2 separate regions of the Homo sapiens genome follow, and region 1 is linked to region 2. Evidence: fine-mapped expression QTL. A gene starts in region 2. The other region holds a variant in brackets. All regions are shown on one strand. Distances are between the middles of the regions. Region 1 overlaps LOC105372706 (a long non-coding RNA gene). Region 2 holds the start of SS18L1 (SS18L1 subunit of BAF chromatin remodeling complex).

What was found. PIP is the estimated chance that this variant, and not a neighbour inherited with it, causes the effect.
Region 1: its variant is the best candidate, but not a certain one, in a credible set for the expression of SS18L1 in aorta (GTEx, PIP 0.68).

The regions. Positions count from the first base shown.
Region 1 is chr20:62,097,065-62,102,428 of GRCh38, forward strand. It overlaps LOC105372706 (a long non-coding RNA gene), which reads right to left. Exons shown (of 3, transcript XR_936963.2): 3 at 4,079-5,364. Among named protein-coding and RNA genes, the nearest start is that of LSM14B, 23 kb to the right of the region's middle. The variant G/A (reference allele first, on the strand shown) is at 2,156.
Region 2 is chr20:62,141,036-62,146,399 of GRCh38, forward strand. SS18L1 (SS18L1 subunit of BAF chromatin remodeling complex) reads left to right here and starts at 2,734. Exons shown (of 11, transcript NM_198935.3): 1 at 2,734-2,854. The coding sequence starts at 2,786. It overlaps PSMA7 (proteasome 20S subunit alpha 7), which reads right to left and starts at 2,359. Exons shown (of 7, transcript NM_002792.4): 1 at 2,173-2,359. The coding sequence starts at 2,268. RefSeq lists silencers at 1,561-2,200, 2,241-2,950, 3,071-3,130, 3,161-3,210.

The sequences.
Region 1 (5,364 bases), 44 kb before region 2:
GGGATGCACTCTGCAGGGGGATCTGCACTGCCCAGGCCAGGAGCCGAGAAGTGGATCCAGGAAGGGCTGGGCCCTGCGGTTACCTGTCACCCAGAATGGCACTGGGCGCCTCTTCTGTCCCCGCCGGCTGTGTGGCCCGAGGCGGGCCCTGGGGCTTGGGTTTCTCATCCATGCAGTAGGGACAGTGTCCCACCTCTGCGTCCCTCATGGGGCATGGCAAGGACCGGGGGAATGGAGGGCCTGCCTGGTCGGATCAGAGAGCAGGGTGGGGGGTGGCGGCGGTCTCAAAGAGGAAGGAAGGCCCCTAGGCTGGGGAAGTCGTGTTGATGCCACCACGGGCACAGCCAAGGACAAAATGCCCTGGGGGCCTCACGGGACCAGACCCTTGGGTCCTCCCACCAGGGGTGGGAGACCATCCTGTCCATGACCACGTCCCACGACATGACTTCAGTTCCCGCCTGTCCTCACACTGGGGACTCCCCCTGCTCACTGCACCCACTGTCCAGTGATGGGTAATTTGAGCCCCAGCAGAACAGTTGTCAAGAGGCTGCTCCGGGAAGGCCACGCAGGCACCACACTCAGGGCAAACGTAGTGGAGTAGGGGGTGGGAGGCGATTGCGGACATGGGCATGAGGGTTCCCAGGAAGAGGGTGGGCATGAGGCAGGCATCTGCATGCTTTTGGGGGGGCATGGCTCTGAAGGGGCAGGTGCAGGTGGGAGAGGGTGTGGGGAGAGAGAATTCTGTGCCCCCATGCAGGGGGATGGGTGTTGCCAGAGGCAGGGTGGGGGCACCGCGGACAGTCGGGCGGAGGGCACATTCCAGGAAGCGTTTTACACACAGGCAGACAGGCCCCACTGCAGGGAAATGGAAGATGGGAAGGGCAGCCCATGGCTTTTCTGGTGTCAGAATGGATTTCTGAAACACAGAGTGAACACAGTCATCCGAAAAGCCCAGGGTTCAATGTGCTGGAGCCCAGATCCGTGGGAGCCCAGGGTGGGGACCTGGGCCTGGGGCTGGGGCTCTTTGGACACTGGCCAGGAGGAAGCAGGAGAGGAGCCAGGTAGGGCCCCGACGGCCTCACGGGCTGCTCAGGACAGACCCTGCAGCCAGGACGAGCGTAGGGCTCCAGCAAAGCTGGACCTGCAGCGTGCCGTTGGGGAGGGGCCTGCCTGGGGTCCACTGTTCCCTCAGTCACAGGCTCCCCAGCGTCCCTTCCCGCACCAGAGTGAACGGCAGGAAAAGATGCTGCAGCGGCGCCCGGCCTGCACCTCCTCCCAGGTGAATCTTGTGGAAAAGGAGATGTAGGCCTAGACAAATCTTTTGTTTTAGAACATTTCCTTCTTGAAAAAAAGAAAAAGAAAAAAGAAACCAAAAAAACCCTTGTCTTCCAGGGAGATCAAAAGGTGATGGTGAAGGAGTCCCGCAAGCTGGGAGTTTAAAAATGGAACAGGCCGGGCGCGGTGGCTCACGCCTATAATCCCAGCACTTTGGGAGGCCGAGGCGGGTGAATCACGAGGTCAGGAGTTCAAGACCAGCCTGGTCAACATGGTGAAACCCCATCTCTACTAAAAATAGAAAAAATTAGCTGGGCACGGTGGTGGGCGCCTGTAATCCCAGTGACTCAGGAGGCTGAGGCAGGAGAACCGCTTGAACCTGGGAGGCGGAGGTTGCAGTGAGCCGAGATTGTACCACTGCACTCCAGCCCAGGTGACAGTGGAGGCTCCATCTCAAAAAAAAAAAAAGAAGAAAAAAGAAAAAAATAGCACAGAACTGGGTCAGGTGGGTTTGTCCTGCCACAGACAGGGTGCTGCTTAGAACCAACCAGCTTTCCCCAGAACTCACCTCCTGCCACTTCATGGTGGAGGGGGTGGCTGCTGGGTTGGACCCAACTCCACCATCTTCCAGCTGGTGAGGATTTCCACGCCATTCCAGGTCACCCCCCGACCTGTTGGGAGCCGGCGTCTTGGACAGGGGAAAGCTGAACAGGGCAGTGAAGAACAGTCTAGAAGCATGTTCTTCACTTCAAGACCCAGGACCCCATGGACATCCTGCCTACAGATCGCCCCACTAGCCCTGCTTCAGTCACTGGGCATCTGGCAGCACTCGATAGGTGCCATGTGGTACTGCCTGCTCTGTGGGTGCAGCTGCCATGCC[G/A]AGGCCGTCCCCTCTGTCCTCTCCAGGCTCTCCTGTAACCTCCCAGCTCTGCTCTCCCATGCCCTCCCTCAACCCAGCCCTTCCGTGGGGGCTCCTCCTGGCTCTCCCCGGCCTGTCCCTCCACACCCCCTTTCAGACCCTCACAGCTGCCTCCCCACACCAGCCTTCAGGGGACTCTGCAGCCCACCTCTCTGCCCACTCCTTCCTCCTAGATTCTCACTGAAGCTTCCCCCGCTCTCCCTAGACCCGCAGCTCATACCCCCGGCTACTTATTAGAATGCCTGGCAAGCTTGGATAAAACCCCATACTCAGCCACACCCAGGCCCATTAAACCACACACCTAGAGTTGGCCTGGAAGCCTCGAGGTACATCCAGGGTGCAGCAGGTAGGAGGCCTCAGTCCCAGACCAAGGAAGGAGCCCTTACCATAGAGTGCCCAGCCCCACCCCAGCCCCGATGCTCACCAGCGTGGGGATTGTATGTTGACCCACACTCAATGAGTGTCTGTGGGATCAGTACATCAGTGATGGGGGGATCAGTCCATCAACAGATCAATGAATGAACCAATGACTGGATGATCTGAGTGGCCACTGCTATTGGCTGAGACGGCTTCTCTCAGGTTTGTCCTCACCACCTGCTTGCTGTCTGAGCAGCCCACCCTCCTCCGTGCACCCCTGGACCCACCTCTGCTTCCCATGGGTACACCCTTGCCTCTGATACAGACGGAAATCCTGATGGCGACAGAGCTGACTCTCCTAAGGCATCCTTTGCATCTGCATCAAAACGATCTGAGGCCACAGATGAGGCCACGAAGAGAAGAACGTGGCCCTGCCTGCTCTGGATTCCCAGCCCCACGGCCCTGCTGTCCTGCTGCTGCTTCCCTGCACTTCCTCTGCTCACCCGCCCGGCAGAGGGTGGTCCCCTGGGCCCACGCAGGCCTGAGCAGCGCACTCCTCCAGGCTTTGGGTGTAAGTCGTTCTTGCGGTCAGTTTATCCTGTGTCTGCCTGTTCCCATCCCAAACCTCCCCAGGGACTCTAGAAAGCGTGTCCTGGGCCACCTTTCCACGTGGGGAGCAAGAAAGCCATCAGCCCCATCCTCCCAGGGGCTCTCATGGGCAGCCTGGCCCTGACTCCCCAGGCGGCTGCTCTTCACACTGCTGTCCATGGGCAACGAGCTCCCACACCTCTGTTGGGGTTTGTCCTGAGCGGAACCTGGGTCCCCCGACTGCCCTCCCCGCTCACTCCCTGCACATTCTCTAGGAGTTCACTGAGAAAGGTGCCTGGAGGCCTCCTCAGTCTTAGGGTCCCCCGGGGGACGAGGATGCAGAGTAGCTTCCCACGGGGCTGTGAAGGTTTTGCCCGCTGCCGACATTGTCCACCTGCAGCCACCTGAGAGGCAGTGCCAGTCAGATCACCAGCTCTTTCGTGGGACTGGGACCTGCTCTGCCAAGAGTTGGCTTCATGTCCTGTGTTCAGAAATTTCATGATGCCATGCCGGCCTTCCTTCACTCATTCAACCTGGAGCCTCACGTCCACATTTTAGGATGTTTCCTCATAAATCACTTGCTTGGCGATGCTCTCCATTCTGTTTTCTCTTTCTGGAGCTCTTATTAATGTTTTCTTCCCTATTTTTCATTTCATTTTCTCTACTTTATGAAAAAATTATCTTTTTTTTTTTTGAGACGGAGTCTCTCTCTGTCACCCAGGCTGGAGTACAGTGGCACAATCTCGGCTCATGGCACAATCTCCACCTCCTGGGTTCAAGTGATTCTCCTGACTCAGCCTCCTGAAGAGCTGGGATTACAGGTGCCCACCACCATGCCCAGCTAATATTTGTGTTTTTAGTAGAGACAGCGTTTCACCATGTTGGCCAGGCTGGTCTCGGACTCCTGACCTCAGATGGTCCACCTGCCTTGGTCTCCCAAAGTGCTGAGATTACACATGTGAGCCACCACGCCCCGCCTGAGAAATTTATCTTTTATGGAAGTTTTCATTTGTGCTTTTTTTTTTTCATTTCCAAGAGCTCTTTCTTAATTTCTCACTGTTCCTTTTTTATTACATCCTGTTCTTAGGTCATGGATGTGCTGTTTTCTCTTCTCTCTCCAAGGGTATCAGCAATAAGGTTTTTTCTTTTTTATATTTTTTGTTCCTCAGGTTGCTACTCTTTCCCCCAAGCTCCCTTCTTTGGTGCATGGGGATGTGGGATCTGTCTTTCGTGTGGGGTCTTTTTCTTCTTCAAAGTCCAGTGACCCTTGGGGTCCACGTGTCTTCATGAGAGGCTCAAAAGTGCTGAGGTGGAGCAGTGTGGGTGTAGGGGGATGAGGGGCTGCTCCAGGGTGGACCTCAGAGGGGGAAGCAGCAAGGTCTGAATATGTGGTCAGGGTTCTTAAGAGGCCAGCGCAATTCCACAGAGCCCCCACCTCCCACCCGGGAGACACATCAGGCTGTTGGCACTCGGGGAGGGAGCAGAGTAAAGGGCTCAGGCCACCTTTCAGGATGTGGCTGTGACCTGATCTCCTGGCCCTCCTCAGTGCCTTGCTCTCTCACAGGCTGTGCCTACCCCTGGCCCCAGCCCAGAACCTCCCAGCCCTGACTCCTGAGAGCAGCACCTGGACCCCTGTCTTCTGCCTGCATCTGTAGGAAAAGCAGTCTCCTAGGGGTGGGTCTGAGCTCCCAGTCCACCCCATGCTCCACCTTCAGAGCTGCCTGGCCTTCTGGATGGAGTCCCTCTGGGGTCCTGGGGATTCCCCACCCTGTGTGCCTGGGCTCTGCCTCTCCCTGGTCTGCCCAGTTGGTACTGCCCAGCTGTCTGTCTTCCAGCTGAGCCAGAGAGGAGATGCCCACAGATAAGCAGGGTCAGCCGTGTCCTCTGTGGTCCTCCCGTGAGTCTAGGGAGGGGATGCCCCAGAGGAGCAAGGTCAGCAGTGTCCCCTCTGTGGTCCAAGATCCAGGGAGAAGCGTGTGCTCTGCACGCTGTGCTGAACCAGAAGTCACCCCCTTACATTTGACTCTGTCTTCAATGTATTTTTAGAAGGAAACTGTAACCACTGCTGCTTCGAATGTGCTGTCACCATCATAGCCACCTCCCCTACAAAGACACAAGCAGGAGCCAGAGGCTGGGAAGCCTGGCAACCTCGAGAAATGGCACCTGGGATGTCACTTGCACAAGAAAAAGAAGACAGAGTGTGCCCACCTGGCCCAAGAGCTGAA
Region 2 (5,364 bases):
GAGGTGGGTGGATGACTTAAATTCAAGAGTTCAAGACCAGCCGGACAACATGGGAAAACCCTGTCTCTACAAAAAGTACAAAAATTAGCCAGGTGTGGTGGCTGAAGCCTGTAGTCCCAGCTACTGTGGGGGCTGGTGGGAGGATCGCTAGAGCCTGGAAGGTGGAGGCTGCAGTGAGCCATGACGGCTGGGAGACAGAGACAGCAAGACCCTGTCCCCTCACCCCACCCTATCCTCCCAAAAAAGTGATACATGGTTCTACTGCCAGGCAGCGAGCAGTAGGAGCAGATCTGAACCTGGGTCCTGGGGGGTACGTACTCCGGGTAGCAGCTCCCACTGGAAGGTGCGTTCACCCACACCCCTTTCTCCTCTACTTGTCTGTCACTGTGGCTGGCACCACATCCTGCAAACCCAGGGGTATTCATCTACTGCTGGTAGAGCTAGCCCAGGCGTGCTCACCTAGGTGCCCAACCTGGGCCTTTCAAATACTGAGATGTAGTTTTAGTTACAACATAGCTAGTAAGTAACCATTATATAATCGGCATGTGTTTCCTTTCAACCCAATGAATCAGTCCCATGCAAAGCCTGGAAGCCTGAGACTTTCACTCAAGTCTGGTGTTCTGAAGGCAGTGTTTCTGTAGTTGTGAAATTATATTGAGCCACAATGCACTGTTTCCTGCACTGTGACATACTCATGTGACAGCCATGAGAAGGGGCCTGATTTGCCGTCAGTGGACAAGGTGTCAAGTGTTATCCCAAACTGTTTATGGCTGATGCTGGAGAAGGATATGGCTGTTATTAAAAGCATGAACAATCACTGACAGTCAACCCGAGTCAAGCCAGAAACAAAGGGAACCATCATTGGGATAAACAGCGCCTCCTGGTTTAGAGCAGGGCTTCTCCAGCTCAGCACTGTGAGCACCTGGGCAGGGGGATCTCCCTGTGCCTGCCGCCCTGAGCACGGGTGGGATATTGAGCAGCGTCCCTGGCCTCTACCCTCCAAATGCCAAGAGCACCTCTGCAAGGTCTTACCACTGGAAAAGTCTCCACACACTGCCAGTGGCTCCGTGTGGGCCCAAAACCATCCCTGGCTGAGAAGTATTGATCTGAAGTGTTTGGGTTTTCTGGGAGCTTTCTCAGGTACTGACTCACTTGACCTTCGACTGACTCGAGGCCCAGAGAAGCTATATGGGTTCGTTAAAGCCAGCGGCGGCCAGCTGGCGGGGGTGGCAGTATTGGGGTGGGTACAGGGGTCAGCCGACTCCTAGTCCTCTTTAAGCTGAGTTAGATCACCTGATGAATACTGGGCCTTCATTTCAAAACAAAGATTCAGAAAATGAAAACAAATCAAAATTTACAGAACCGTGTGTGCTGCTTTCTCTGCCTGCTCAAACCTCTGAATACCAGATGATAAAAGAATAACGATCTCACAGACTGACCAATTAAACTGACACGTCTTGATGGTACGAATTTAAGTTTCAAACAATGTCACTAAGGTCAATGTACACGAGCCCTCGTCAAAACGAAACGGCCGCGTCCAAACCAGTCCTGACCCGGGCGGCTGCAGCCCGGCCCCGGGAAGGCTCCTCCCGGCAGAGTGCGGAGACCTGGGAGGCGCCCGCCACCGGCCAGGCCAGCGAGCCGCTTTGTTCTCGAAGCCCACCTGGGCCTAGAGAATAAGTGTTGCCCCGGAGCGGGTGGGGGTCCCCATAAGGGGGGTTTGAGTAGTTCGCTCCCCAGCCACCCGGCTGCGTGAACAGCCCCCCAGCGAGCGCACGGCCTACCCCCCGCGCTCCGCGGCCCAGAGCGGCCCTCGCCCGGCCTCTGCTCGCCGGGGCGGCGGCGCGACCCACGCGCCCGGCCGGGGCCAGGGGTGCTCAAGATGGCGTCGTCACGGCCCCCGTGCCCGGGGCCCCACGCGAGGCCGGGCCCCAAGCGAGGCGCTGAGTGGGGAGAACGAGCGCTCGCGGCTCACGCCAAACGCCGCCTCTGCAGGCACTCGTGGAGACCGGCAGCGGGGCCCGCGCTCAGCTACAGCCCTGACCGCCCGCGCCGCTGCCCCGCGCACGCCCGCGGGCGCCCACAGCGCCGCGCCCGGCCCCGGCCCTCTCTGGGCTCCCCAGCCCCACTTCCGCCCGCGTCCCCGGCCCCGCGCAGGCCCCGCCGCCTCACCGCGGTCGAGCCCTTCTTGACGGCCTCCTGCGCGTACTCCACTTGGAAGAGGTGGCCGTCGGGCGAGAAGACGGTGATGGCGCGGTCGTAGCTCATGCCGGCGGGCGGCGGCCGGGCTCCTTCCGCCGCGACTCTCAAAAGCGCACACTCACGGCCCGCGCGCACCCGCGACTCCCGGCGCCACTACGCCCGCGCCCCACCCTCGGCGCCGTGTCCTGCGCTGCCGGCGACGGGCGGCGTCAGGCGGCGACGGGCAGCGTCAGGCGGCGTCGGGCGGACGTGATGGCGCGCGCCGGGGCGGGGTCAGGCCGAACCACCGGTGGCCGGGGGTGGGAGGCGGTGCTCCGGCGAGGGCCGGGCGCTGGGTGCGAGGGGGTCGCCGGGGGCCACCGTTCGGCACTGGGCCGCAGACCGTTCTGCAGGGCGGAGCGGCGGCGCCGCGGGCCCGGAGGCGCGGCGACGGCGACGGGGCGGACGAGCCCACGACGCGGCGCCCCCCGCGCTCCCGCCCCCTTCCCCCCCTCCGCGACTGCGGATAATGAGCGCCTCGGGCCGCCCAGCGCAGCCGGAGTATCCACCTCGATGACCACGGGCTGAGCCCCGCGCCGCCACCATGTCCGTGGCCTTCGCGTCTGCCCGGCCAAGAGGCAAAGGGGAGGTTACGCAGCAAACCATCCAGAAGGTGGGCCGGGCCGGAGCGGCGGCGCTGGGCGGCGGGTCTGCGGGCGGGCGCGCGCGGGGACGGGGCGCGGGCAGCTGGCGGGCGCGGGGCGCGAACAAAGCCGGGGCGCAGCCGGGCGGCCGCGAGCCCCGACGGCGGCCCCGTGCCCTTCCCCGCGTCCCACGCCTGCGCGCCGGCGGGCACCCGGCCGTGTGGGGGGCGGTCCCCGGAGAGCCTGCGCCAACTTTGTTGGGGCGCGCGGGTCCCTCGGGCCGGGGCACTGGGCGGTGGGGGCCGGGCGGACGCTGGAGGCTGCCGGCCCCCGAGCGCGCTGTCCCCCGAGTCCGCGGCGCGCGCTGGGAACTGTCCTGGGCTATGCCGGGCGCACGGGGACCCCTCGGGGCCGGAGCCGCGGCGAGGGCTTGTCGCGCTCCGCAGCCAGCTTCGGTGGCGACGGCGGGCGGTACTCGTTTTCTGCGCTCATTTTGGTTAGTGGTGAGGGGCCCGGGTCGGCCTCCGGGCGCACTTGCGACCGCGGGGACTGTGGCCGGGGCTGCCCCTCTTGCTCCTGGAGCGAGGCGCGAACGATGGAGGCACGGAAGGACGCGTCCCGATCCCCATTTGCGGGGCATCGTTACGCAGCCCGGCCCCGTAGGGAGCGCACCGCCCCCTCCGTATCCTCGCGGCTACGCCGGGTTTCAGCGTGACACCCTCGCCAGCCGCCTCGCCTAACAAACTTGACGGATTTGCTCCACAACCTTTCTTCTAGCTCCGTAAGTTCGGCCTTGTGGTTTTCAAGAGACAGCGTTTATGTGGGTTTGGGACACCGTTATCCAAAGCCCTAAGTTTTGAAATTGAGACTTTGTATTTTCTGCTGTTTTTTCTGTAGAAGACAGATTCGGAAGAAAATCAGCATTAGCCATACCCGTTTCAGTTGTCACAACATCTGTTGGAATGACATTGGTTTTTTTTCCTAAACTCTGACTCCGTCTTCACCCTGGTGGGATTGCAGGGATAAACAGTGGTATTCCTAGGTTCCCAGGAGCCGCTTGTCTCCCTAAGGGGGTTCACCTTGACCTTGACTGAGGCTGTTATTCCTTGATGACGTGCCAGTCTCCTGTGGAAGTTGTCCTAAATCTATCGCCTATTTTGAGACTACCTTTGCTGTTGCTAGTTTTAGAAATTTGATGGTCTTAACAAATGAGAACCTTGGCCAACTCTGAACAGGAGAGATTGAGAATAGCAGAAATACAGATTTACAAGTGTGGCATTTTAATTTACTTAGTAAACACTTATGTGGCGCTTACCGTATCCCAGACACTGTTCTAGGGGTTTTATAAATCTTGATTCATCCAATTCTTCATAGAAGCTACTGGCATCCCGTTTAATAGCTAAAGAGGCTGCGGCCTAGGGAGGCCGTGCCTTGCTGGTAAGTGGACACTGAGGCCTAGGGGGGCTAAATGCCTTGCTGGTAAGTGGCACAGCCAGGTGTCGATCCCATACGGTGGCTCCAGGGTCTGCTCTGTTGGTGCCCCTTGATCTGGGAACATTTGGCCAGGCGGAGGTCAAGCTCTAGGCTCAGAGGCAAATGTTGGAACCCAGAGCATCTCCTGGCACTCTGGTTTTTTGGAGCTTAACAGTCATTGTTCCTGAAGCTACCTTTGGCTGCAACGTTTATCCCATTATTTGCACTTCGCACACAGTTCCATTGAAGCTCCCCAAATTCTCCAGGTAAAAGTGTGTATTGAGGTGCTGCCCCGAACATCAGATCAGAAAGGAAGAAATGCACCTGTGGACCGTGGGTCCCTGGGCAGAAACTCAGCCTGCTGACCATTGGAAATAGGCCTTCAGTTTAGGCTGCTGACTTGGCTTGGTAGGGCCAGCAGTCTGCGTATTGGGCTTGGTGTTTTGACGGTGAATATATGTACCCAGGGATCTTTTACTGGGAGGTGTGAGAAGGCTGAGAAAGGTGTGAGAGGTGTATGTTCTATGCCTCAGACGTGTGCTGTGTCCACAGTGTGTGCTGGTAGTGTCATGCCGAGAGCTTTAAGAGAAGCCAGGGACCCCTCTGAAGCCTGCGTGGTAGTGAAGGAGAAGGAAGTCTACAACTTGTCCTTACAGCATTCTGCGTGGTAGCGAAGGAGAAAGAGGTCTACAACTTGTCCTTACAGCATTCTGCGTGGTAGTGAAGGAGAAGGAGGTCTACAACTTGTCCTTACAGCATTCTGCTTGGTAGTGAAGGAGAAAGAGGTCTACACCTTGTCCTTACAGCATTCTGTGTGGGTGGAGATCTTCCAGGCCAACTTCTACTCAACCTTCAAAGCCTCACTCACGTGTTCCGCGTCTCATGCTCCGTCGGCAGTCATGTGGCCCTTGTAGCACTTGCTTGAGCTCCTGAGTTTGGCATGTGACTGATTATTCTTTGCTGATCCCCAGCCTCTCATAGTGTCTGAGCACAGTTAGTGCTGAGCACGTGCTGGATCATCTGTGACGCTGGTCCCATCAGTGGAAGCGTTTTGAGATAAGCAGAT